Linked DNA regions of Homo sapiens. The protein of the gene in region 1 purifies or fractionates together with the protein of each later gene. This does not show direct contact. Each region holds a gene or a part of one and is shown in the gene's direction. Other genes may lie near its edges.

The links.
Region 2: the proteins of PALM (region 1) and SPON1 fractionate together in Homo sapiens (co-fractionation; one large-scale study listed by BioGRID). This does not show direct contact.
Region 3: the proteins of PALM (region 1) and SLC24A4 fractionate together in Homo sapiens (co-fractionation; one large-scale study listed by BioGRID). This does not show direct contact.
Region 4: the proteins of PALM (region 1) and TMEM63A fractionate together in Homo sapiens (co-fractionation; one large-scale study listed by BioGRID). This does not show direct contact.

Annotation. Positions count from the first base shown.
Region 1 is NC_000019.10:723,582-731,458, forward strand, and holds part of PALM (paralemmin-1), read left to right. Parts: intron 1-2,556; coding exon 2,557-2,608; intron 2,609-3,426; coding exon 3,427-3,507; intron 3,508-3,982; coding exon 3,983-4,113; intron 4,114-7,513; coding exon 7,514-7,664; intron 7,665-7,877. UniProt on the Homo sapiens protein: Involved in plasma membrane dynamics and cell process formation. Isoform 1 and isoform 2 are necessary for axonal and dendritic filopodia induction, for dendritic spine maturation and synapse formation in a palmitoylation-dependent manner.
Region 2 is NC_000011.10:14,257,282-14,265,158, forward strand, and holds part of SPON1 (spondin-1 precursor), read left to right. Parts: intron 1-434; coding exon 435-617; intron 618-1,998; coding exon 1,999-2,169; intron 2,170-2,252; coding exon 2,253-2,420; intron 2,421-3,306; coding exon 3,307-3,471; intron 3,472-5,430; coding exon 5,431-5,694; intron 5,695-7,877. UniProt on the Homo sapiens protein: Cell adhesion protein that promotes the attachment of spinal cord and sensory neuron cells and the outgrowth of neurites in vitro. May contribute to the growth and guidance of axons in both the spinal cord and the PNS.
Region 3 is NC_000014.9:92,497,665-92,501,164, forward strand, and holds part of SLC24A4 (sodium/potassium/calcium exchanger 4 isoform 1 precursor), read left to right. Parts: 3' UTR 1-3,500. UniProt on the Homo sapiens protein: Calcium, potassium:sodium antiporter that transports 1 Ca(2+) and 1 K(+) in exchange for 4 Na(+).
Region 4 is NC_000001.11:225,873,551-225,881,427, reverse strand, and holds part of TMEM63A (mechanosensitive cation channel TMEM63A), read left to right. Parts: intron 1-2,017; 5' UTR 2,018-2,208; intron 2,209-3,833; 5' UTR 3,834-3,847; coding exon 3,848-4,033; intron 4,034-7,060; coding exon 7,061-7,140; intron 7,141-7,877. UniProt on the Homo sapiens protein: Mechanosensitive cation channel with low conductance and high activation threshold. In contrast to TMEM63B, does not show phospholipid scramblase activity. Acts as a regulator of lysosomal morphology by mediating lysosomal mechanosensitivity.

The DNA of each region.
Region 1 (7,877 bases):
CTTTTTGTTGTTTTGTTTTGTTTTGTTTTTGACGGAGTCTCGCTTTGTTGCCCTGGCTGGAGTGCAGCGCGTGATCTCTGCTCACTGCAACCTCCGCCTCCTGGGTTCAATCAATTCTCCTGCCTCAGCTCCTCAAGTAGCTGGTTTTACAGGTGCCTGCCATCACGCTCGGCTAATTTTTGTATTTTTTGGTAGAGACGGGGTTTTACCGTCTCTGTTGGCCAGGCTGGTCTCGAACTTCCGACCTCAGGTAATCCGCTCGCATCGGCCTCCCAGAGCGCTGGGATTACAGGCGTGAGCCACCGCGCCCGGCCTGCTTTTTGCATTTTACTAAGCACCTACTACGTGCAGCTTTCTGAGGGCCCACAGACCAGGGAGGGGAGGGGAGGGTTTGGGTGGCAAAGCTCTTCTTCTAGCAGGTGGGAGGGGAAGCGAGAAAGCAGTGGGGTGGGGGTGCCCTGAACTCCGTGTGAACCACGGGGCTGCAGACAGATGAGGAGAGGGGCTCTGCACCAGCTTCTGGAGCTGCAGGGCGAGGTTGCTGTGGGGAGGTCAGAGAACCACAGAATTCCTCGGTTCTTTCCTGGGCGAGTGAGCGTGTGGTGGGTGCCTGGTGGGGGTGGCGAGGGCTTCGGTTTCTGGACCTCCTTCCCACACCACAAAGGGCCCTGTATCTTTGAAGCCTGAAGCCCGGTCCCTTCAGGCGTATCCGGCAACAGTGGTATTCATTCATTCATTTATTGTTTGTTTGTTTGTTTGAGGTGGAGTCTTGCTCTGTTGCCCAGGCTGGAGTGCAGTGGCGCGATCTCGGCTCATGCAACCTCTGCCTCCTGGGTTCAAGCCATTCTCCTGTCTCGGCCTCCAAGTAGCTGGGATTACAGGTGCCGACCACCACGCCTGGCTAATTTTTGTATTTTTAGTAGAGACGGGGGTTTCACCATGTTGGGCAGGCTGGTCTAGAACTCCTGACCTCAGGTGATCCTCCCACCTCAGCCTCCCAAAGTGCTGGGATTACAAGCGTGAGCCACTGCGCCCGGCCATTCATTCATTTTTGAGACAGAGCCTCATGCTGCTGCCCAGGCTGGAGTAGGGTGGTGGGGTCATGGCTCACTGCCCCCTGGACCTCCCAGGCTCAAGCAGTCCTCCCACCTTAGCCTCCCGAGTAGCTGGGACTACAGGCGCACACCACCACACCTTGATAATATTTTTTATTTTTATTTTTGGTAGAGATGGGGTCTTACTAGATTGCCTAGGCTGGTCTCGAACTCCTGGGCTGGAGTAATCCTCCCACCTCGGCCTCCCAAAGTGCTAAAATTACAGGCGTGAGCAGCTGTGGTTTTGCTTTTGTTTTGTTTTGCGACAGGGTCTCACTCTGTTGCCCACGCTGGAGGGCAGTGGCGCGATCTCGGCTCACTGCAGCCTCGACCTCCCGGGTTCAAGTGATTCTCCCACCTCAGCCTTCTGAGTAGTTGGGAGCAATTCTCGTGCCTCAGCCTCCACGCCCAGCTAATTTTTGTATTTCTTGGTGGAGACAAGGTTTTGCCATGTTGGCCAGGCTGGTCTCGAACTCCTGACCTCAAGTGATCCGCCTGCCTCAGCTGCCCCCTGATATTTGTTAAGCGCCTACCACATACCAGCCCTGGGAGGTGAGGCTACAGCTGCACTGGGTGGGCTGTTTTCAAAAGACAATGATTGGGCCGGGCGCGGTGGCTCACGCCTGTAATCCCAGCACTTTGGGAGGCCAAGGCGGGCGGATCACCTGAGGTCAGGAGTTCGAGACCAGCCTGGCCAACATGGTGAAACCCCTGTCTCTACTAAAAGATACAAAAATTAGCCGGGCGTGGTGGCAGGCACCTGTCATCCCAGCTACTCAGGAAGCTGAGGCAGGAGAATCGCTTGAACCCAGGAGGCGGAGGCTGCAGTGAGCTGAGATCCTGCCACTGCACTCCAGCCTGGGAGACAGCAAGACTCCATCTGAAAAAACAAACAAAACCACAATGATTGGATAAGAGCGAGTCTGGGGTTGAATCCGGACTTGGATCCTTTGCTGTGCGTCCTTGGGAGGCTCGTCTCCCTGTCTGGGCTTTTGCAAGCCCAGGCTTGGGAGGTGGGGCTGGTGGGTCTTTCATCCTCTGTTTGCCCCTCCTGGGGCTGCAGAGTAGGTCTTGGTGGGCAGGAGGGTGCAGAGAGGACTGTCCTGATCTGTCTTATGGTCTGGGCCAGGAGGTGATACACTTCCTTCTTCCCGAAACACCCTTCTCTGGCCTTTGATGCCTGGTGAACTCCTATGTATCCTTGGTGGCCCTGCCTCAATGTCCCCTTCTCCCCAAACCCTTCCTGGTCGCTAGGCAGAGCCTCGTCCCCTCCTGTCCTGGCTTCCTTGGCCGCTGAGGGGGCAGGGAGGGCCCCACTTTACAGAAGGGGAAACTGGGGTTCAGAGATGAAATCCCTTGCCCTGGTTACCCCTAGGGGAAGAGGCAGAGCTGGGATTTGAACCGCGTCTGACGGACAGCAGGGCTCAGTGAACCAGAGCTTGACCTTATCTCCCTCCCGCAGGGTCCTGGCGGCAGAGACCACGTCCCAGCAGGAGCGGCTGCAGGCCATCGCAGTGAGTTTCCGCCGCCCCGCAGACGGTGTGGTCAGGGTGGGGAAGTGGGGGGACCTGGGGTCTCGGGCCCTGGACCTGTCCTAGGACCTGGAACCAGGGCATGGTGGGTGGTGAGTTATTTGCTTGGGAAACTTGGATCCTGCTGACCCGCAGAGAATGGAAGTGGAGACCCCCTGAGTCGGCAGCTCCTGGACCCCCGGCCTCGCTCTGCCTGATGGGTCGGTGGGGAAACTGAGGCTGGCATTCCCTGGAACCCTGCCCTCGTCCTGCAGGAAAATAAACTTTGGTGATGGGAGCACAGATGTGCTTTGGTGCCATCTTGGTGGCCTCTGGCCCAAGAAGGCCCTCTTGGTGTCCGCAGACCCCTCTCTGTGACCCGACCCTCCTGTGACGTGGCCCGATTCCTGGGTTCAAGTGACTCTCCTGCCTCAGCCTCTCGAGTAGCTGGGATTATGAGTGACCGCCACGACGCTGGGCTAATTGTTGTATTTTTAGTAGAGATGGGGTTTCACCATGTTGGCCAGGCTGGTCTTGAACTCCTGAACTCAAGTGATCCTCCCGCCTTGGCCTCCCAAAGTGCTGGGATTACAGGCGTGAGCCACCGTGCCCGGCCAGTCATTGATTTTCGAGACAGGGTCTTGCGCTGCTGTCCCGGGCTGGAGTACAGTGGTGCGATCCGCTGTCACCTGGAAGCCAGTGGGCCACGAGGATCCCCGGACAGAGGAAGCAGGATCGGGCTGGGCAGAGCCTTGTGTGGGGGTGGGGGGGTCTCCGGGACCCCCACGCCCATCCCTGACCCCACCCGGCCCTCCCCACAGGAGAAGCGGAAGCGGCAGGCGGAGATCGAGAACAAGCGCCGGCAGCTGGAGGACGAGCGGAGGCAGCTGCAGCACCTGAAGGTACGAGCGGGGCAGGGACCCAGGGTCAGGGAGTGCAGGCGGCTGTGAGGCGGAGGCCCCGGACTCCTGCCCAACCCTGACCCTGACCCCAATCCCAACCTGACCCTGACCCTGCCTCCAGCCCTGACCCTGACCCCGACCCTGACCCCGACCCCGACCCCGACCCTGACCCCAACCTGACCCCGACCCTGACCCCAACCTGACCCTGACCCCGACCCTGACCCTGATCTCAGTCCTGACTCTGACCCTGACCTGACCCCAACCTCAATCCTGACCCTGACCTTGACTCTGACCCAGACCCTGACCCCCAACCTCGATTGTGATTCTGACCTCAGCACTGATCCCAACCATAACCCTGACCCCAACCTTGGTCCTGCCTCAACCCCGACCCTGATCCTGACCCTGACCTCAGTCTTAAGTCTTAACCCTGGCCCTGGTCCTGCCCACGACTCTGACCTGGATCCCTGCTGCTCAGTCCAAGGCACTGCGGGAGCGCTGGCTGCTGGAGGGGACGCCGTCCTCGGCCTCAGAGGGGGATGAGGACCTGAGGAGGCAGATGCAGGACGACGAGCAGAAGACACGGCTGCTGGAGGACTCGGTGTCCAGGTGGGGGCTGCAGCGTGGGTGCCACCGGGCTGGGTGGGGCCTCGGGGGCCGCTGGCTCCCGGGAGGGTGTGGGCTGGGAAGAGTCGTCAGTGTGCTTTGAGGGAGATGCGTGGACCGGGCAGGCCAGGACCCAACATGCTTTGAGGGGGACGCAGGACGGGACAGATCAGGTTGGGGCATCCACCTGGGTCTGGGGCAGCTTGCTGGGGGCAGAGGCTGGCTGCGTGGCCTCAGGCAGGGAGATACCCCTTTCCCTTCCCACCGCCCTCGTTTGAGCCAGCGAGGGACGTGGCGTCGAGCTCCTGGGTCCCTGGAGCTGGCCAGCGGGGGACGTGACGTCGAGCTCGTGGGTCCCTGGAGCTGGGTGTTGCCGGCATTGGCCTCCCTGGGGGCTTCCTGGCGCCAGCCCAGCTGGCGGGCAAGCGCTCCCATGGTTCGAACGGGATGGATGCAGAGCAGCTGGGCCCGCAGGAAGCTCGGGCGGGGGCAGGAAGGGGACAGGATGGGGAAAGTGGCAATCCCTGTGGGGGCTGGGACCAAAGGCCTGGAGTTTCCGGCGGGCGGGAGGCCCAGGCTGTGCTCGGGGGCAGCAGGGTCAGGGTGGAGGGAAGTGACGACCAAGATTCCAAACGTCTGCCCTGGCCAGGGAAGGTGCCCAGAGGCGGGAGGCCGGCCGGATCACACGGACCTCGCAGGCCCTTCCCAGACGCTGGGTTCTGACCCCGTGGGGGCCCCTCCCTGCCCAGTTCTGCCCATTTGCTTTGAAGAAAGCACGTTGGGGGTGTTCGGGATGGACTTCCCTCCTGGGCAGGGCGTGTAAAGGCATGGACAGGCCGGGTGCGGTGGTTCACACCCCTGATCCCAGCACTTTGGGAAGCCGAGGCAGGAGGATCACTTGAGATCAGAGGTTCGAGACCAACCTGACCAACATCGTGAAACCCCATCTTTACTAAAAATACAAAAATTAGCCTGGTGTGGTGGTGCCCAGCCTGTAATCCCAGCTACTCCGGAGGCTGAGGCAGAAGAAGGCCAGGCGCGGTGGCTCAAGCCTGTAATCCTGGCACTTTGGGAGACCGAGGTGGGTGAATCACGAGGTCAGGAGATCGAGACCATCCTGGCTAACACAGTGAAACCCCGTCTCTACTAAAAATACAAAAAAATTAGCCAGGCGTGGTGGCGGGCACCTGTAGTCCCAGCTACTCATGAGACTGAGGCAGGAGAATGGCGTGAACCCGGGAGGCGGAGCTTGCAGTGAGCCAAGATCTCACCGCTGCACTCTGGCCTGGGCAACAGAGTGAGACTGGGTCTCAAAAAATAAATAAATAAATAAAAATAAAGGCATGGACATGCTGGGCGTGGGTGGGGCTCACACCTGTAATGCCAGCACTTTGGGAGGCCGAGGCAGGAGGATCACCTGAGGTCAGAGATTTGAGACCAGCCTGGCCAAGATGGCGAAACCCAGTCTCTACTAAAAATGCAAAAATTAGGTGGATTAGTGGCGGGCGCCTGTAATCCCAGCTACTGGGGAGGCTGAGGCAGGAGAATTGCTTGAACCCAGGAGGCGGAGGTTTCAGTGAGCCGAGATCAAGCCACTGCACTCCAGCCTGGGGGACAGAGCGAGAATCTGTCTAAAAAAGGAAGGTATGGACAGGGTGGGGCAGTTCTGGTGGGTTTGGGGCCTTGGAATGAGCCGAGTGTTACCCACTCCCTGGGCCTCAGTTTCCTCACCTGTGAACCAGGGAGGCAAAAATCCCACGGTGCGTCTTTTTTTTTTTTTTTTTTTTTTTTTGAGAAGGAGTCTCGCTCTGTCGCCCAGGCTGGAGTGCGGTGGCGCGATCTCAGCTCACTGCAAGCTCCGCCTCCCGGGTTCACGCCATTCTCCTGCCTCAGCCTTCTGAGTAGCTGGGATTACAGGTGCCCGCCACGCCTGGCTAATTTTGCATTTTTAGTAGAGACGGGGTTTCACCATGTTGGTTAGGCTGGTCTCGAACTCCCAACCTCAGCTGATCCGCCCGCCTCTGCCTTCCAAAGTGCTGGGATTACAGGTGTGAGCCACTGCGCCTGGCCCCACTGTGCATCTTAATTCCAGCAAACATTAAGCACCAGCTGTGTCCCTGGGCTGGACGGGATGTTCAGACCGAGGTGGGGCTGAGACGGGCCTGGCCCTGTCTGCAGAGAGGTGGATGGTCAGACACCTGGGCGAAGGCAGTGGGAGTTACTGGCCGTGGGGGCTGGGCACACTGGTGTTCTTTTCACGCGGCCCTAGTGGGCACAGGCTCAGGCCCCTCGATGGAGGGTGAAGACCTGGCTTGAGGCCTAGTTTGCTTTCAGAGGCTTCAGCTTCACCCCTCCCCAGGGCAGCCTGCTTCTCAGGTGCTGAAACTGAGCTGCTCTGGGTCTCCACTACCCACCTTCTGCCTGCTCAGGGGCTCTGCCCAGGCACCTCCTGCAGGAAGCCCTCCAGGCTGACTGTGGGCTCCCAGACACCTCCTGCAGGAAGCCCTCCAGGCGGCTGTGGGCTGGACCCCTCTTCTGGTTGGAGGGGACACAAGTCTGGCTCTGTGTCCAACCTGTCAGCCTGGGCCCACCTTGTTAGACTTACGCACTCAGCCCTCGTCTGTCCTGTCCTCAGGCTGAGGCTGAGCTGCCGTGAATGTCGCCCGCCCTTGCCAGACCCCGGGGCTGGGATTTCATATCCCGGTTTTGTTTTCCTGGATCTGCTTGTCCCGTTATCTCTTCTAATACTTGGAAAGTGACATGGTTTTTCCAGTTTCCCTGGTGAGATAAAGTTTCCTGTTAAAATGTGCAAATTTGAGCGGGAAAGGAGAGTTCATTTGATACAGACAGTGACATAAACAGCGCAGGCCAGGGGTCAGGGGACACAGGGAGTCAGCCCTGGTTTGGATCCCGCCTCTGCTACCTGCTGGCCATGTGGCTTTTGCACTCCGTGCCTCAGTTTCCCCCATCATGAAAGAGCACGATGCCTCTTGGGGCTGCCTGGGAGCCTTAAATTCAGAGAGCTAGGCCGAGTGCGGTGGGTCACGCCTGGAATCCCAGCACTTTGGGAGGATGAGGCGGGCAGATCACCTGAGGTCGGGAGTTCAAGACCAGCCTGGCCAACATGGTGAAACCCTGTCTCTGCTAAAAATACAAAAAATTAGCTGGGTGTGGTGGTGCACGCCTGTAATCCCAGCTACTCGAGACCCTGAGGCAGGAGGATCACTTGAACCCGGGAGGTGGAGGTTGCAGCGAGCCAAGATCACGCCATTGCACTCCAGCCTGGGCAACAAGAGCGAGAATCTGTCTCAAAAAAAAGACACTGGGGAGCTGTCGTACAGAAGGTGCCCAGAGCCCCACCGGGGATGCAGGAGTCACCCTCACAGGCACACCCTCTCCCCAGGTTGGAGAAGGAAATTGAGGTGCTGGAGCGTGGAGACTCCGCCCCAGCCACTGCCAAGGAGAACGCGGCGGCCCCGAGCCCAGTCCGGGCCCCAGCCCCGAGTCCAGCCAAGGAGGAGCGCAAGACAGAGGTGGTGATGAATTCACAGCAGGTAAGGGGGTGACTGGGGGGAGCGGATCCCCAGGCACCCACTCCCGCTGGCCCCAGAGCGAGGCCCCAGCCCTTCCATGTCAGCGTAGCTGAGGGGACAGGCACAGACTAGAGCCAGGCACTTGATTTCCAGCTCACCGGAGCCACTTCCCAGCTGTGTGAGCCGGGACACGTGGTTTCGCCTTGCTGGGCCTCGGTTTCCCCATCTGTAAGA
Region 2 (7,877 bases), on another chromosome or scaffold:
TGGTACATGATGAGTACTCAATGAATAGCAGCTGCTCTTATTCTTACCATGACAACTGTGTATGGGATCATTGGGAAGATGAAGCCATGGCATGTAAATAAGCCTTGAGCTTTTCAAAATTACCTACAATGAGCCTGCATGTGTCTGGAAACAATGCCAAGATGAGGGACTGAAAATGAGAAGACGTTCATGTGTTGAGAGGAAGGGATAATAAGAATCATTCTGCTTATTTAGATTAGATATTTATTAGCAAGATGTTAAACTATTATCTTTAAAGGGAAGTGGATGGCTGCTTCCATCCCAGGAGCACCCAGGCTCACTGAAGTCAGTCTGGCAGCATGGCTTTTCTTGTCCCCAGATAAGCTGGTATGGGGAGAGGGCCAGTGGCAGCTCCCATAGGTTCCCAGGGAAAACATGTCAAACACTCTTTCCAGATGACACCCCTGAAACCTGCATCTACTCCAACTGGTCCCCATGGTCCGCCTGCAGCTCCTCCACCTGTGACAAAGGCAAGAGGATGCGACAGCGCATGCTGAAAGCACAGCTGGACCTCAGCGTCCCCTGCCCTGACACCCAGGACTTCCAGCCCTGCATGGGCCCTGGCTGCAGTGACGAAGGTGAGGAGACAACCCAGACCAGCCAGGGGCTGGCAGGAGTTCAGGAAGGGAGGGTCTGCCTAGCAGTCAGACAGTGTCCCTGGTGAGGGCACAAGGACCCTGACAGTAGATGTCAGTGGGGTCCACCTTGGGCAAACTCCTATCTGCAACAGTGTCTTGAGGGCTCTGAACACAGAATCTCTCTTATATCAAAGGAATTCTTGAGATTGACCACCCCCTCCTTCTTTTACTGAAGAGCTAACAAACATAGATACAACTTATGACAAGTTACAGATAACACATAGCCTGCTTCTGGGCCTTAACTCCAATCTCTTCTTAAGGAGCCTGTTAACAGTCAGCCCAGATTGAATCTAGATCCATTGCCCTAATTCTGTCATTTACAGCCCCTCATCTGTGTTCCACCTCAGCGTGAGTCAGAGCACTCTCACTTCTTTGTGTCAGGACCTTTGGGCTGATTGCAGAAATTCTCAGTCTATTTGCAACAGTGCAAAGGTCAGCCTTTAAGTATAATCTTGCAACACCTATATCATGATGGCTCAAGCTTCAAGATTGCACTAAGCTGATTGCTGTGCAAAGGTCAGCTATCTGCTTCCCAAGCCATGACCCCTTTCTCTGCCTGATAGATCTACGCTATTCTGCCCTGATCTTATAGGATGCCATAAGGCAATGGGAAGGCACTGTATAGGCTGGACTGGTGTATGGCAGGGAAAAAAACCACTTCCAAGCCGAGGATAAAGAAAGCAAGCTTATCCCATGCAGGTCATTAATTCCTTGGCTCTGCCTAGAGGGAGGCTCTTAAACACCTCTCCCAGTGTTGCACTTTCACGATGGTTTATTGCTAGCTCATTTTGCCCACAATAAGCACTTTGGAGGGGAGTAAACCCTCCCCGTAGACTAAGTCATTCCTACAAACAGGCGGGAGGAAAGCTGGGACTGGCCTGTCAACATTGAAGCCTCTTTCTTGGGGCTGGGACTGGGGAGCTAAGCTGAGGAGCTGAGGTCCTTAACCTCCCCTTCCACAGGGAAGGATTGTTCCTCATACAAATGGATTATGATTTATCTTAAATTATATGTAGATTAAATTATATCTTATCTTAGATATATGCGTGTACATTTTTTAAACACCATCCTTTCCATACAAGCATCTTTCGAATGTATTTTCATGAGATAAAGAGTAATTCTGAGTGTCCCATGCACCTGGAAAAGAGGCATTTCCTCTTAGAGAACTTTGCCAGTTTAAGGATTTAGACCTCTTAGGTGTGCAGACAACCTCAACTGCCTGACTCCTCTTGATTCCCGCTGGCGGGAAGTTCCCACCGCGCAGCCTGGCAGGCGCCCCTGCCACCGTGCACTGCTGCAGCGTTCACTCGGTGTGTTGCAGACGGCTCCACCTGCACCATGTCCGAGTGGATCACCTGGTCGCCCTGCAGCATCTCCTGCGGCATGGGCATGAGGTCCCGGGAGAGGTATGTGAAGCAGTTCCCGGAGGACGGCTCCGTGTGCACGCTGCCCACTGAGGAAACGGAGAAGTGCACGGTCAACGAGGAGTGCTGTGAGTGGGGGCCCCGGGCGGGCAGGCGGGCAAGTAGGTCGGGGAGGCAGCAGGTGCGACTCCAATGCCGCTGGCCTCCCCAGCTCCCAGCAGCTGCCTGATGACCGAGTGGGGCGAGTGGGACGAGTGCAGCGCCACCTGCGGCATGGGCATGAAGAAGCGGCACCGCATGATCAAGATGAACCCCGCAGATGGCTCCATGTGCAAAGCCGAGACATCACAGGCAGAGAAGTGCATGATGCCAGAGTGCCGTGAGTGAGAGCGGGGGTGGACTTGGAGGAGGCCACTGGGGACAGGCGTGGAGGGCCATGGCATCCACTATTACCACCATAAAGGTCGGAGGCTGAGCAGAGGAAAGCATGGCCCATGGTCCTTGCTGGGCACTGCTGGGAGCCAGATGAGAGACATAGGTGTGTAGACATCAACCAGACCCAGAGAGAGTAACCTCCACTGGGGGACATTCTAAGCAATGCTGGGGTGGCAAACTGGTGGCCTCTGGATAGAGAATTCACCTGCAGCTGTGTTTTATAGGAGTGTCTTTCTTGCAGTGGTGGGGAGGAGGGCCAATACATTTAGGCGGGACATACATTACCCAGGTCCAGCCCACTCCTCCCACTCCTGTTGTACATTGGACTTGGCTGATCCCATAAAGCATGACCTCCCCTGCTCTGTGCACAAATGCATATGGGCCTGCCCACACATTAGTATGCAGATGTATACAGGCACACAAGTATATACACATTCTAGGGAATTCAGGACAATGTCCAAAAATGCATCCCTGAGCCTCTCCTTTAGTGCCTGATTCTTAGTGAGTGTGGGATGTTTCTGTCTCTAGGAAGACCCTGCTAAGATCCTCAGTGGCCTTTCTAGTGGGGACTTATGTAGTCATATTGCTACCCTCATGTCATAACCATCGGGGGGGGTCAGCAGGGAGATGAAAGAGAGTGAAAAGAAGAGCAGTAGGCTGCTGAGCCACTTCTTGCTCCATAGATTTCACTCTTATTTGAACCCATGGGCCAATTCCACTTTATTCCAGGGGCCAAAGCAGGGGACTCGGTGTGGAACACTGTGGGGTCAGGGAGATCAACGAAAACAAAAGGAACCTGTTCTCAGTGGCAAACCTGGTTCTTGATCTAGACACCATCCCATGCTTGCTGTCCCCATGGTCCGAGTGGAGTGACTGCAGCGTGACCTGCGGGAAGGGCATGCGAACCCGACAGCGGATGCTCAAGTCTCTGGCAGAACTTGGAGACTGCAATGAGGATCTGGAGCAGGTGGAGAAGTGCATGCTCCCTGAATGCCGTAAGTCCTGGAGCTCCTCAAGGCCCATCACTTCTATGTTCCTGAGTCCAGGGAGCCCCGAACCAGCCAGTGCTAATACTGCTAGATCCTAGAATAACATGGTTTGCTGGGGAAGAGTTTGGGGTTTGGCTTTCAGTGTTTGCAGTTACTTAAACACTGCAGTCAGTTTCATTAATAAAGTGAGAATCCCACTACCGTCTACAGAACACCCAAAGTTAAGGTTCCTGTGAAGTCTAAATGACAGACACATACGAAAAACAGCACAAAGCTCAATAAACCTTAGTTCTTTCCCTCCTCTCCCCCAACAATTATAGGCTTGCCTGACCCATGGATTTTCCAAGCATTTTAATTCTATTTTCCCTGTGACCATTTTAATTCCCCATGACCAGAGGCTGGACATTAAATCAATGACTCCTGCAGACTGGTAAGAAAACCAGCAAGAAAACAAGCCAAGTTCTCAAAAACTCACCCCACCCCGCTCCACTCCCAGTCCTGTTTTCCAAAGTCTCTGCGATCAGCTGTTTATATTACATGGGACTAATCTCCAAGCAGAGCAAGCCAGTTTCCTTGGCTGGTCTTCCAAGAGCTGCTTTTTTGGGTGGTAAAAGGGCAGGCACACTGGCTGTGGCTCTGGCCCCCTCCAGCATGTACTTGCAGTCGTTCATCCTCCCTCCCCTAGCTAGTAACCTTCAGCCGATGACTCAGCACCTCTGTTCCTCAGTTTCTCCATCTGTAAAATAGCAGGAAATACTTCCTAGGTTGCTCTGAGGATGAAACCAAGTAATTGGTCCAAAGTATGAGCACTGGACATGGCAAGGATAGGCCTTACTTAATCCCTGCTCCATGCTCCAGCTCCTGGGTTGTTTTAGGAGACTCAGCCATGGGTGGAGGTAACTTGGACCACCCACTAGAGAAAGCCTGGGGTTTTCAGTAACTAAGATTGGCCCATGGTTCAGGCCAGCTCACCAGAGTTGGGGCCCCATAGCCTTCTGACTTAGAGTGCCTGGGGTCCACTGAAGTAAGGGAGAAGAAAATGAAAATTTATGGAGCACTTACAGGGCTGGGAGCATCTCATTTAATCCTTACAACCTAATGAAAAAAAAAATACCATGATCCCCATTTTGCAGATAAGAAAGCTGCCTGAGCTTCCACAGGCGGGATAAAAGAACTGAAACTGTTGAACTAAATGAGGACATCTAAGTCCACCACCCTGACTTTGGCCTTGCAAGACCAACAGAGAGCTTGGAATAATTTACCTCCCTGGGACACATCCTGACAGTCAAACTGATGTGTTATTTTCCTTTCACATTTATGAGATGCTGGCTTAGTAAGAATTTACTGGATCTCGATAAACCATAAAGCACCACTTGCTCCTGACCCTCTTCTCTACTGAATGTCCCATTTCTGGCTCCTGTGTTTTTTGCATAGACCACCATATATAGAACACAGGATGATGTTGAGAATGAAAAGCTGCCAGGGTGTGTTAGAACCACAATGTCCTTGGTATTGGTCCACAAGGGTCAGCCGCCTTTAGCTTGTTGACTTGTTCTCTCCAAAGAGCAGCAGGGGGCTTGCTGGCCTTGCTCTGAAAAATATCACCAGTGAGTTTGGGACTGTGGGAAGCTATTCTGTACTTGAGGCTGATCTGACAATATTCTAGTTCACAGAGCAGGGCAAGAGGCTCTGAACACATCCTGAAAGTCCTCCAAAGCCTTCTTGAGTCATAGAGGGAGCATAGAATGGGTGATGACCTGGCACCAATCCTGCCTCTGCTGCTTACCAACCACACGGGCTGAAGTCAGCCTGCCTCTTTGGAGCCTCAGTTTCTTCTTCTGTAAAATAGCATGACACAGCACCTGCTTTGCATCCCTCATAGGCTTGTTGAGATGTTCAAAGGAGAGCGTGACCATATCTTGTTTCAGACATGTGATACACTCATGCCCATCTGTGTCTTGCCAGCCATTGACTGTGAGCTCACCGAGTGGTCCCAGTGGTCGGAATGTAACAAGTCATGTGGGAAAGGCCACGTGATTCGAACCCGGATGATCCAAATGGAGCCTCAGTTTGGAGGTGCACCCTGCCCAGAGACTGTGCAGCGAAAAAAGTGCCGCATCCGAAAATGCCTTCGAAATCCATCCATCCAAAAGCTACGCTGGAGGGAGGCCCGAGAGAGCCGGCGGAGTGAGCAGCTGAAGGAAGAGTCTGAAGGGGAGCAGTTCCCAGGTATGGCTCCCAAGTGTCAGCCTGGGTGGTCTCCAGGACAGGCAGGGTTCTGCACTGGGCTAAGTCTTGGACCTGTTTAAAAAAAAAAAAAAAAAAAAAGTCGGGGAGAGTCTGCATCTTCTGGAGTCTTCAGGCCACATTTTGATTCTTTAGATCCAAGTTTGTTCCCAAATATTGAGCAAGCATAATTTATAAAGGAGATTGGCGGTGGGGGTCATTTATCAAAGAACATTTAGATAACCTAATTACCTGCCAAAAATAAATTTTCAAGCAAAGAATCTTTAGGAATTACAGTTCCTTCTTTACACACATATAAAACCAATAATGTGTCCAACTTTGCTCAAAGTCAGTTATGACTTAGCAACACCATTCACTCCTTGCAAAGAGGGAAAATGATACAGATGTGTCAAAGGAGTCTTGTCTTGTTCATCATTTAGGGAATGTTCCTGAGAACCTCCCAGAACACATCATCTTCCATTTTAAGGGTGTGGCTCAGACAAGGCAGCCGTGGCCTGAGACTTTATGATTTTTTTTTGCAAGGCTAACCAGAAGTTTATCAGCAGTGTCATGTCAGCCTTGAGTTTTATTTCCCCAAATAATATTGATCCAAGCTGACAAATAACTAATAGAACAATGCACCAAGTGCTCAGGGAGCTGAGGAATGAGCATCATCTTACATTGACTGGAGTTCAGGGAGATGTCAGAGCAGGGAAAACTAGAGTGGGTCTTGAAAAATCTAGAGGAGTTTGCCACTTAGAAAAGTACATTCCAGGCCGGGCACGGTGGCTCATGCCTGTAATCCCAGCACCTTGGTAGGCCAAGGCAGGCCAATCACTTGAGGTCAGGAGTTTGAGACCAGCCTGGCCAATATGGTGAAACCCCATCTCTACTAAAAGTACAAAAATTAGCCGGGCATGGTGGCGCACACCTGTAATCCCAGCTACTCAGGAGGCTGAAGCAGGAGAATCACTTGAACTGGGGAGGCAGAGGTTGCAGTGAGCCAAGAGCACACCATTGCACTCCAGTCTGGGCAACAAGAGTGAAACTCCGTCTCAAATTAAAAAAAAAAAAAAAGAAAAGTACATTCCAGGCAGCAAGAATAGTCATTACAAAGGCACAGAGATGCCAAAGACCATGATAGGTCCAAGTGATAGGTCCAAGTGATAAATGGGATGCAGATGAAGCACAGAGGACAAGGCAGGCAGGAAACCAGGCTGGGAAGGCAGGGACCAGACCACACAAGGCCAGTGGCCCACCAAGGATTTTGGGACCTGATTCTGTAGGTGGTTTTAAGCAAGAGGGTGACTGTATCAGACCTGTGTTGACTGATTTGGGGATGGCAAACAGACACAGAGGCCAGATAGGTTTTATTTGTAACCCAAGAGAAAGATTATACATCCCCAAACTCCAGCTTAACTTCAGAGTTCCAGGACTTCAGAAGAAAAAGAAAATGCCTGCCAGGGACTTCAGTGCTGAAGGTGCCCATGTAAAAAAGTGAAGATTAACATGTACATCAAGTTTTCTGATTTTTAAAGGCCTATTCTTTTTGAAGCATGAGGATCTCCTTGATGGTTCAGGATCCTTATGATTAGGGAGCTGTTTGCATATCAAAGTGCTGTCTGTTCTACATGGTAGTCAGCCAGTCAACAAACATTCATTAAAGCCTACTATGTGGCAGGTACATAGTTGTACGGTACATTCCTCCATGACTCTTAGCTGTAGTGTGGTTAACAAATATCTCATGTGTAACCATAAATGTGGTGGGTTCTATAAAAGAGGAATCTAGAGTGCTATGGAAGCAGTAATCAAAAGATCTAACCTAATTAATCTCTGGGGTCAGGGAAGTTTTCTTGGAGAGCAGCATGTTTATGCTGAGTAGGAAGAACAAAAATTGTACTTCTCTATACTTAGCATTTGGGAGCCAAGTACTTGGGGAGTAAGGCATAAGAGAAAGTGGTTTAGTGTTCCTTATATGGCTGCTGCATAAGCCATCCCAAAACAGTCTTTTTAAACAATCACTTAGCAAGATTCTGTGGATCAGTGATGTGAACTGGGTCCACTGGATGGTTCTTCTTGGGTCTAGTTTGGACTCATTCATGTGGCTACTACTAGCTGGTGGCACAATTGGACCAGACCAGCCTCACCTGCGTATCTGGGGCCTCATGAGATGGCTGGGGCTTCTC
Region 3 (3,500 bases), on another chromosome or scaffold:
GTTACCACACTTTGGAACTTTCCCCCTGGGATTCAGCAGTTGAGAAGCAGAGACCTTTCTGCCCTGGGTGAATGGGTCCTTGGGGGAGGGGTTGGTCTTTTGTCTCGCATCCCCATCTTTCCTTTCCTTCTGGGCCATGCTCCTCCCTGGCTGGAAAAAGGTGGCTGTGCTGTCCCTGTGATCCACTCTCAGCAAATGCGTGTGGCTCAAATAAACAAAGAACTTACCTGTTAGAGTGAAAATCCTCAGGAGATTGTACCCAAATGCCATGCTCTAAATATTCATGGTCTCTCTAATGCCCTCAAGACGTGATTTCCATGGGAACCATCCTCCCCTGGGGGCAGTTAGCAGGAGTACGTGGGGCACGTGAGGTGGTCCTCCTTTCAGCACACCGTGCCCATAGAAACTTCTAGAAATTTCTGAAAATGCTCTGTGGGCAGCTCTTGGGTGGCAGTAAGTCCATCAACCCCCATCTACCCCGGGCCTGAAGCGCTGCGCTTGCTCTCTTTATGTGTGTGCACCCGAAGGATTTCCTGGTCTCTGTAGCTGATCCTGTGAGCCCCTCAAGCATGAAGCCTCCCTTGGGGCTTCTCAAAGCATGGAGAGGGGCCCTTCCTGTCCTTTGGGAAAATCTTCCCCACTGTGTCAGTTATATGGGAACAAGAGTGATGGGGTCTTTCTCTAGGCCTGTGCCACAGGACAGAGAACACGGGATTCTGCTGTTCGCTTTGAGCCACAGCCTTTACCAGCCCGGCTTGTGTGGGGGGCCCCTTCGCCTTGCTGCAAAGAGCTGTTCCCCAAAGGGCATATCCACAGGGTACAGGTTTTAAAAAGGCTTTTTTTTTTTTTTTTGAGACAGGGTCTCGCTCTGTCGCCTAGACTCAGTGCAGTGGCGCCATGTTGGCTGGTTGCAACCTCCACCTCCTGGGTTCAAGTGATTCTCCCACCTCAGCCTCTCTGGTAGCTGGGACTACAGGCACGCGCCACCATGCCCAGCTAATTTTTGGATTTTTAGTAGAGAAGGAGTTTCACCATGCTGACCAGGCTGGTTTCGAACTCCTGACCTCAAGTGATCCGCCCGCCTGGGCCTCCCAGAGTGCTGAGATTACAGGCGTGAGCCACCGCACCTGGCCAAAAAAAGGCATTTTGATTTAGGTTGCTGTGTTTGCTTGTTGATAAAGAAAACTCAATCGGGACACTAGTTTTGTGCTCAGCTTTAGGCCGGGTAGCTAATGGGAGGATGTCCAGCCTGTCACTGTGCTCCCAGCGCAAGGAAATGGGTGCCCACCTGGAATCAGGAGAAGAGGCTTTTCCCTCCTGTTCTGCAACCAGGGTGGAGCTATCTTTCCAGGGAAGCCAGCTGAGAGGTTTTAGGGCTTTGGTTATTTTATGGGGGTTTTAAACCTCCTAACTTTTCAATGACAAATGGCTCCCAGGTGCCATAGTCTCTGTTAAATCCTCAAACATTCACAAGCACACACTGCCAGGGGCACGGGTTGTCTTTCACCTGCATGTTTCTAAGGCTCTTTATTCAATCTCACGGTGTCAGTGTCCAGTTGTCAAAGTTATGAATCTTCCTCCTGCTTCTAAACAGGGCTGACAGTATACTCTCGTCTAGTCTAGGAACATGTCTGCTGCTGGGATACCCTGGTACCAGGATTTGAGGGCCACGGGTGGCATCTCTGAGAGCTGAAAATCCACAGAGTGCCTGTGGGAAAGCCAAGCCCTTGGCTGTGTGGCTTTTCTATCCCTTGGATTTACAGGTCTGGGAATTGGCTGCTTCTTAGTTATAACCCCAGTGACAAATGCTGGCTTAAGCCACACCTGTTCCCACTGTTGCTAGAATTCAAACAGTTGCTTTTTTTTTTTCTTTTTGAGAAAGGGCCTCACTCTGTTGCCCAGGCTGGAGTGCAGTGGCTTGATCACAGCTCACGAAAGCCTCAAACTCCTAGGCTCAAGTGATCCTCCTGAAAAGTAGGTAGGACTACAGGCACATGCCACCACATACAGCTAATTTGTTTTCATTTTTTTTTTTTTTAGAGACAGGATCTCGCTGTGTTCCCCAGGTAGGTCTTGAACTCCTGGCCTCAAGTGATCCTCCTGCCTTGACCTCCCAAAGTGCTGGATTACAAGCGTGAGCCCCTGCACCCGGCCCAAGCAGTTGCTTCTTTTTTTCTCTTTTTTTTTTTTTTTGAGATGGAGCCTCACTCTGTTGCCCAGGCTGGAGTGCAGTGGCGCGATCTCCACTCACTGCAAGCTCCGCCTCCCGGGTTCATGCCATTCTCCTGCCTCAGCCTCCCGAGTAGCTGGGACTACAGGCGCCTGCCACCACACCCAGCTAATTTTTTGTATTTTTGGTACAGACAGGGTTTCACCGTGTTAGCCAGGATGGTCTTGATCTCCTGATCTCGTGATCCGCCCACCCCGGCCTCCCAAAGTGCTGGATTACAAGCGTGAGCCACCGCGCCCCGCCAAGCAGTTGCTTCTTATGCAACATGTTGGTTGGGACTTGTCCACGGGCCAGGCCAATAAAATTCTTAATCCTGCAGAGAGTCAGTACCCTCATCACCCCATCACTGGAAAACAAATGTTTTAAGCTATCAAGAGAGGGAATGTGCAGCTTTTGGTTTCTAGATGCATGGTTTGGTGTGATCTACCTTTGTGCCTAAAGGGAATGTCCCAAACAACAGAGCCTTCTTTGCTGTCACTCCAGAATTCTCTACACAGAATTTCCCAAGTCCATTCAGGACAGACGCGCAGTCCTCTTTCAATGGAAGAAGAGAGGACTTTTCCCCTCCTGAAAAATGACTGGAGTGTGAACAAGGCAGCTCTGTTTTTCTAAATAAGTTGTTCTTGTGAGTTTTTTCTGGCCACTGGGCATCTCTGCCCTCACTTTTCATCCCTGCCCTCTAAGCTGCAGACCCCATGACCACACTGTCTGCTTCCTTGAGCTTCCCGCACGAGGCTTGGACCTGGGGGACCTGGAGACCCTGCGGACAGAACTGTGGCTGAGCCACTGTGGCCAACTCTTGGGGAGCTCCACAGTGGGGGTTGCTGGTCTGTGAGGCTGAGTCTCCATTTCAGAGCACACACTCCCTGGCAGGGCGCCTCTGCCTGTGTCTCCTGCCCAGCAGCCGCCAGCAGGGAATAGTTGCTGGTGTCTGAGCACAAAGAGAGCTTTGATTACCTAGAGAGGAAAAAGGCTGTCAGCCAGATGCAGCCAGGCCCAGGGGTAGATACAGGAGTTGCTAAGGAAGGGGCCGAGCCAGGAGAGGCCAGGCAGATCCACAAAGCCCAAGGGGATGCAGGCTGGGTGTGGTTTCTGAGGGAACCTACCAAATAGCAGGTAGATGGAATCAGAGGACTCTTGTGTCCTGAAAGAACCTCCTTAAAAACAACTAAAACGAAGAACTTCTGGGGCTGTTCACACATTGTTCAAGTCACCCCAAGATCGTTCTGGCACGCTGAGCTGAACACCACCATCTTTGTTCATTCTCTCT
Region 4 (7,877 bases), on another chromosome or scaffold:
GGGGCGACTTAAAATAAAGGCAGACAGCTTCTAATTGCTTGCTAGGGCCGGGTCCTGGGCTAAGTGCTTTACAGGTGTTGTTTGGGATCTGTGCCTCCCAACAGCTCCGTGAGAGAAAGTCATCACTCGCATTTCCTGGCGAAGGAAGCCAAGGCACAGAGTGGTTAGGCTGCTTGTCTGAACTGCGTGGTGCTGAGACCCTAACTCCAGAGCCTGCTCACATAATCCCTGAGCCACACTGCCTCTGGTTTCAGCCAGGGGCTGTGTCATTTCCTTTGTGCTCCAGGGTAGGAGGTAAACAGTTGTCCAGGTTACTGGGTCCTGTTTGGTGTTGCCATAAGGAGAAGTTTGTACTTTACTTTGCAACCTTATTCTGCATCTGAAAGACCAGAGTTAGCTCCTGAGGCAGAAGGCCTGGAGCTGCTTGTAGTTTCGCTATTGTCATCACAGGATTGAAAGATTTGGTGATGATAAAATTACCCTGAATTTGTACGGGCCTTCTTGCAAGAACGAACAATATCCATATACTTCCTGCAACATTCTGCTGGTATTTCTAGAGCTTGTCAAGTTGACCACCAGGCCAGTCCTTGCTGCCAATGGAGACTGGCAGTGGATTAGCATAGGTAGTTTACTTTGGCAAATTTAGACCAGCTGTTGGATTTAGCCCTCTCCCACTGGCCACAATCAGACGCTTGCCTGCACATGGGTTGAACTTTGGGTTGGGAGCGTGAAGTCACCTGCTGCCCACTCTGGCTCTTGGGCCTCAGCAGTAATTCTTGGCTTTCCTACCCTCGGCATATTGAGTAGGAATAAGGGGATGAATGGAGAATTTCTGGAAGGCACAGGTAAGTGCTAGGCATTCACATACATCTAGGATGACTGAATATTGCCAGGGGTTCTCAGCCAGGCAGTGCCACTTCAACCACAGTGCCTAGCTGCTGGTTTGGCCTCCTCTATACAGCTGCCAGCTGGGTGCTCCCCTCCCCCTGCCTTCTCCTCAGCCTGGCAGCACTGTCCCATGGTGTCTGTGTTCCCAGCTGCCTGCTCAGAGCGTGCCTGTTTGTGAAAATGCAGAGGAGCTGTCCCATGGAGAGCCAGAGGGACGGAGCTGTTTCAGGGGGATCTGGACTTTATGTGTCTAATGGGCAGGGACAGGCTGGGACTGAGCTGAAAGGTCTGAGAGAGATTGTGGGTCCCCAGAGCTCTACCCTAACCTGGGTGCTCATCGGAGAGGGCAGACAGGACTGGCCACCTGACCTTACCTCCGTCTCAGGCTGATAGTATTTGCTAGCCACCTCCCTGAGTTCATATCAAACTTTGTCAAACCACCCTGGGAAGCCTATTTGGCAAGAGACAAGTAACTTAGAGGCATGACTGGGGCTGGAGGGAGGGGGAAGAGGAGCCGCAGGTGTTTCCCTCCGCAGAGGCCTCTCTCCTCTGCAGCACTGGCGAGGGTATGCCACTCCCAGCACCACCACAGCACCCTCCCCTTTCCAGGGACAATGCTCTCTCTGTGAGCATTTTATGGGGATGTTTTTTCTTTCCACTTCACATTTCAAGCCTTCCTTGTTCATGCTGCTGTGTTCCCTTTTCCTGATTCTAGCTCTTGGGGAACCCTGGGGAGCCTCCCCAGTAGCATTGGCCCTTGGGGCCCAGGTGAAGTCCTTTGCTTGGGGCCCTACCGTGAGCCCACAACCTCCAGGGTTTCTGTGGGAGAGGGCTGCTCCCCTAGACCCAGCAGGTCCCTGAGCCATTGGCAAAGAGGAGAGAGGCTGGGGCCACAGGTGGTGCTGGCCGAGGAAGGAGGAGTAGGGTCGCACAGAGGAGCACTGATGGATGGAGAACCAGTTCTGGGAGTTTGGGGAGAGATCAAGGCAGGAGGGAGCCCACTGGGCAGAACCTAAAGGTCCATATGGGCAGCATGCATACACAGGTGTGTGCTGGAGGGTTTCCATCCAGACCCCTACACTGGAAAAGGGTGGCTCCCATGTGATGCTTGGTGTCTGTGATCCTTCAGGAAAGTCTACAGTTTGGTACCCCAGGACTCGCTGGTCAGGAAAGCCCTGCAGGACATGAGTGTTAGGCCCGACGCCTGGCCCTTGGCAGCTTGGGAGGTGGCTGGGGCTGCTTTTGCCTTTGCCAGAGACAGCTCCAACTGAGGACCTCTCCAACGGGCCCATCCACAGTCCTTCCTTCCCCTAGTGTCTGGTAAGTGTGGGGACAGGAAGGAGGAGGGGTAGGTGGTGGCCTTGAAGTGTTGGGCTGGTGTGTTCCATTGGGTGGTGCCACTGGGGGATTTTAAAGGGAAGCCAAGAACATCTGTGTTCCAGAGGTCACTCTTGTGACACTCTGTTCAGAGTCAGCAGCCCCATGACTCTGGCATCACAACCCCCACTACCTCCAGCCATTGCCAAGTCTCTTAGAAGGTTGAGAAAGTCACTTGGCTGTCTGTGGGATGCTCCCATGTTCTTGGGCTTTCCACTCATTCATGCTTCCTGTGCTTCGTGTGTGTGTGTGTGTGTGTGTGTGTGTGTGTGTGTGTAGGTAGGTAGGTAGGTAGGTAGGTGTCCATGTGTGATTGTCCCCAGCACTCTAGGCCTAGGGGTTACCCAACATACACACCTCACCAGCACTACTGGTATCCAAACATCTGTTTGGGTTCTCTATATCTTTTCTTCTTGTTCTCAAGATCTTTGTCCCTGTAACAGCTAGAAGCACCAGACTTAGCAGAAAAATCCCCTGGGAATTCTAGATTTACCAGATTTGGGCAGGTAGGATCTTAAGCAAGTCCAGGCTGAATATGTGTTCTGGCCCTTCAGCCACAGCATGAGAACTTGGACACTAACTCCCGGTCCTCTGGTGTCAGGGGACAGACACTGGAGATTTCTATTAGCTTCACCAGGGGCGCCAGGAGCCTCAGGAAGGAAAGGTCAACAACCCAGCCTGGAGCAGTGTTTGCTTTGGAAATGCTGGGCCTTGCAGTTAGACTGATGGTACCCAGGAGGGGTATGTGTGTGTGAAAGCGCAGAGCTAGGGGACCCAGAGGTCCCTGAGGAGGCCCTGGGACTCCTGACTCCCTCCCCGTCCCTACCCTAGACCACCCCCTTTACTTTCTCCTCTGTGGCAAAGTAAAAAGAGAAGTGGCATCTGAGAGTCAGGATATTGGGTTTGGGATTCAATTCTGCCCTGACCAGCTCCTTAACCTTAACTTTGGGGCAAGTTATTAAACCTCTGAGGCTTGGTTTCCAAGTATAGCAGATGGACCCATCTCTGAGGTCCCAGCTCTGACATTCTGTGAGCAGTGGGAGTGAGGTGTTGTCTGTGGCTCGTGGATGGACCATCGTGAATACTTGGATGTTCCCTTCTTCCCTGGTTGTTTATCCCGGTGTTTTCCTCTTCCTGCCTTTGTGTGCCTTTCTCCCTCTCCTCTGCCTGTACTCTAGATCCGCCAGTGGCTTCTGCAGGAGTGACTTTCCCAACACGAGTCCTCGAGGCTAGAGGAACTTTAGGACTTCTTAAGACAGCAGCTGCAGCAACTCTGTCCCTCCTTTGCTCCATGTCGCCCCCTCTGGGGATCTGCCCACTGTGTCCTGGATGAGCCATCCACTCTGACCATCTGATCCCCTGAGATTGTCCCACAATGCAGCCATTCTCTGTGGACACTGCCAGGCACGCAGAGGTCCAATGTCTGGCTCTCCCGGACTCCTTGCTGCTGGCTCACTGCCCGATCAGTCCCTGGGAAACGCCTGCCTTTGGCTCTGCCAGCACTGGTGGGAACCTGCAAGAAATTTGAGCCCTGAACGTCTGCCTTGTCCTGTTGTCCTGTGCTCCAGGGAAGACAGGCGCGATGATGGACTCCCCGTTCCTGGAGCTGTGGCAGTCCAAGGCAGTGTCCATCAGGGAGCAGCTGGGACTCGGGGACCGGCCCAACGACTCCTATTGCTACAACTCGGCCAAAAACAGCACCGTGCTCCAGGGGGTCACCTTTGGTGGCATCCCCACTGTCCTGCTCATAGACGTCAGCTGCTTCCTGGTGAGAGCCCTCATGAGTCGTGTCCCACTGCCTCAGTTATTTGTTTAAATGCCCCACCCAGGGCCTTCTGGGAAACTTAGATGAGAAGTCAGACATAGCTGGGTTTAAATCTCAACTCTGCTGCTTACCAGCTCTGTGACTTAGGCGTGTTACTTAGCTTCTGTGCACCTCCCCTTTCTGCTCCGGAAATGGAGATCATAATTCCTATCTCAGAGAATTTTGGAATTTGGATAAGGCCAGAATACTCATATAGCTATGCCTGTGATTACTACCGTGATTGCAGAGCTCTCAGCCTGTCGTATCTTTAAGGCCCTTGGGAAGGGTCATCTCAAGGGGTTGAGACATGTGACTGGAGAGTACGGACTAGAATAGAGCAGCTGCAGTTCCCAAGTGTCACCTCCTGTTCCCCTCTGGCATCCCTGGGGTTTTTAAAGAATCAGAAGCTGGGCCAGGTACGGTGGCTCATGCCTGTAATCTCAGCACTTTGGGAGGCTGAGGCGAGTAGATTGCCTGAGGTCAGGAGTTCGAGACCAGCCTGGCTAACATGGTGAAACCCTGTCTCTACTAAAAATACAAAAAATTAGCCGGGTGTGGTGGTCGGCGCCTGTAATCCCGGCTACTCTGGAGGCCGAGGCAGGAGAATTGCTTGAACCTGGGAGGCAGAGTTGCAATGAGCCGAGATCACGCCACTGCACTCCAGCCTGTGCAACAAGAGCGAGACGCTGTCTCAAAAAAAACCAAAAAAACAAAAAAAAGAATTAGAAGCTGATTCTTAGAGCGTACCTTCAGCAGGTGGCCTTTCTTTAACGTAGATCTCCTTGTTCACAAAGATGCCCCATGGCATTGTTCTTCCTTATGCAGACTCAACGTTGGCTGGCTGAGATTTATTGGGGTTAAAGTGCCCCTTCTTTTCACAAATGCCATGGGCTGGCCAGTGCCTCTTGATACTGTCTCCTAACATGTGGCAGAGACCATCTGAGTGAAGGGGGCAGATGGCTCTGATGGAGTAAACATCCTTGGACTGCTTGGAGCTGGAGACTAGGCTCGGGTGGGGAACATGGGGAGGGTGGCTTAGGGTAGCAAGGAGGAGTGGGCAGGGGTGTGGGGGTGGATTTCAGAATTGGTGGGATTAGAGGAGGGTGGCCTTGGGTCTTCAGGGTGGGGAGAGTTTGGCCAAGGTGAGGAGTACAGAGAGGGGGACCTGGGCAGGGACCCTAGCTGGGCTGGGTGGGTATTGTTGCAACAGTGTTGGCTGAGAAGAGAGTCACCCTCTATTGTGCTGCTGAAGGTGAATTTTTTTTTTTTTTTTTTTTTTTTTTTTTTTTTTTTTTGAGACAAGGTCTCACTGTCACCCAGGCTGAAGTACAGTGGCATAATCACAATTCACTGCGACTTCCTCCTCCTGGGCTCAAGCAATCCTCCCACCTCAGCCTCCTGCATAGCTGGGACTACAAGCACATGCCACCGTGTCTGGGTTATTTTTGTATTTTTGGTAGAGATGGGATTTCACACCATGTTGCCTAGGCTGGTCTCAAACTCCTGAGCTCAAGCGATTCACCAGCCTTGGCCTCCCAAAGTGCTGGGATTACAGGAGTGAGCCATGGTGCCCGGCCAGGGGTGGATTTTTATTGCAGTAAGTTTTGGGGGTGGGGGAGGGGGGACACATAAGAGCCAGAGGGCCCTGGAGAGCATGGGTTTGTGGGAAGTGTCTGCACTGCACAGGCCAGGGCGGCAGCCGCTGTGGACAGAGAGGGCAGGCACCTGCTGAGCAGGTTTCGTGGTTTTCCTACAACATGACTCACCTGCCTTTGAAAATATGTCACCAACTTCCTGATTCACCTGAAGAAAATTCCACGAGAACTCAGTGCCTCTGGGGTTCAGGTCTTCTGGATTTCCTTTAGGAAAACAAAGCCTACCTTCAAAACCCCCGTTTCTGATCAGAGCAGGCAGGGATGTGCTTACTAAGATGTATTTCTCTACCTCCCTGAACCTCAAAGAGAGGGACCCTGTCTAGGGAGGGAAGAGAGGCAGGAACATGGCATGGAGCCTGCCAAGGTGGACTGTGGGGAGTGAGGACAGTCTAGAGTGTACAGATGTCTAGAGCTAAGCGGCTTAGTCCAGCCCTGAGGTTGCCATTGGACACAAGCTTGCTGAGGTGTCCCAGCTTACGGAGGCCAAGCCAGCCCGAGCACAGGTTCTCGTGGTGCCTTGCTGCCTGCATGCATGCTCTCTGCTGGGGGATTGCAGGGCCTGCGGGGCCTGCCTTCAGGGGAATCAAACTCAGAGGAAAAAACTGACCGTTTCTGGCTCAGCCTGAGGAGGCTCTGCTACCTTGGTTCTGTAATTTAAAATGAAATTTTCTGGCCAGCATGGTGGCTCACGCCTGTAATCCCAGCACTTTGGGAGGCTGAGGCAGGTGGATCACCTGAGGTCAGGAGTTCGAGACCAGCCTGACCAATATGGTGAAACCCTGTCTCTACTAAAATACAAAAATTAGCTGGGTGTGGTGGCGGGCACCTGTAGTCCCAGCTACTCTGGAGGCTGAGGCACAAGAATTGCTTGAACCCGGGAGGGGAAGTTGCAGTGAGCCGAAAGAAAAAAATTTTCTGTAAAGTGAAGAAGGATGCTGGTTCCTGGGGCTGCTCTGGGGCCAGACCTTACCCTCCTGCTCGGGGCCACTGAAGGCAGAGCAGGGCCCGAGACTGGGCCTTGTGGTGTTACCGCTGCCTTGAGAGCAAGAGACAGGGCTGACGTGCAGAACTAGGCAGGCTCCAGGCAAGCTTGGCGTCAGCGCTGGCAGCCTTGGTGGCGTGGGCACAGGTGACAGGAGCCTGGTGAAGGGGGTGAGCAAAGCATCCGGGCTACTGAGCTGCATGGCCTTGGGCACTTCAGTGCCCTCTCTGGGCCTGGGTGTTTTCCTTCTAGCCCTGCTGAGTGCGGGCAGGTGGGCTTTACCCCTGAGACCGCTGTGTCTTCTAATGAGAAGCCATCCAATATGCTTTTACTTGGTTTCTTTTCTGTTTTTAGTTCTTAATCTTGGTGTTTTCTATTATAAGAAGAAGATTCTGGGACTATGGCCGCATTGCCCTGGTGTCAGAAGCAGACAGGTAAAGACATATCGCCTAGGCTGTGAGCATGCGTGTGCGTACGTGTGAGTGTGTATATGTGCGTGAGTGTGTATATGTGCGTGTGTGCATATATGTGTGTATAGTGTGTGTGTGTGTGTCCCTGGAATGGGCTAGGGGCTTATGAAGCCCTCCATGTGGGCAGGACCCACACATGACACTGCTATGAGATTGTGTTCATTAAGTGTATCTACCTGGCCTGTACCAATAGCTGTTCTCTTTGCTCTTCACCACAGACCCATGAGGTCAGCCTCGCTACCCTCATTGTGCTCACAAAACAAAAAACAAAAACAAAAACCCAGGCTCAGATGCTCAGCTCCCTCAGGGCTTCTGTTGGGCCAAGGCTATGAACCTTGTTGGCTTCAGACTGGTTGCTTTAGATACTGAGGGCTTTCGTCATCCTCTGAAGAGGATGCCCATTTTCTTTCTCACCTTGAGTATTTTTAAGTGATCATCTTTGAAATTAATTAGCTTGGGGCCAGGGCTGAGTGAGGATCAAGGGCAGCAGAGCCATCAGGGAACTGCCCCACCCTCCTGCCAGGTCAGCGCCGGGTTTGGATGAGTCTGTTACAAAGCACAGGCTCCCTCGGCCAGGCTTCAGGTCCTTCCAGTTCTGCGTGGGGCTCCAGGATTCTCTGTTCATGTCGCCTGAAGGGTGACAGTGAATTCTGGATCTGCACAACCTGACGTTCCAGCTCCAGCTGGCTGTTTGCACCCAG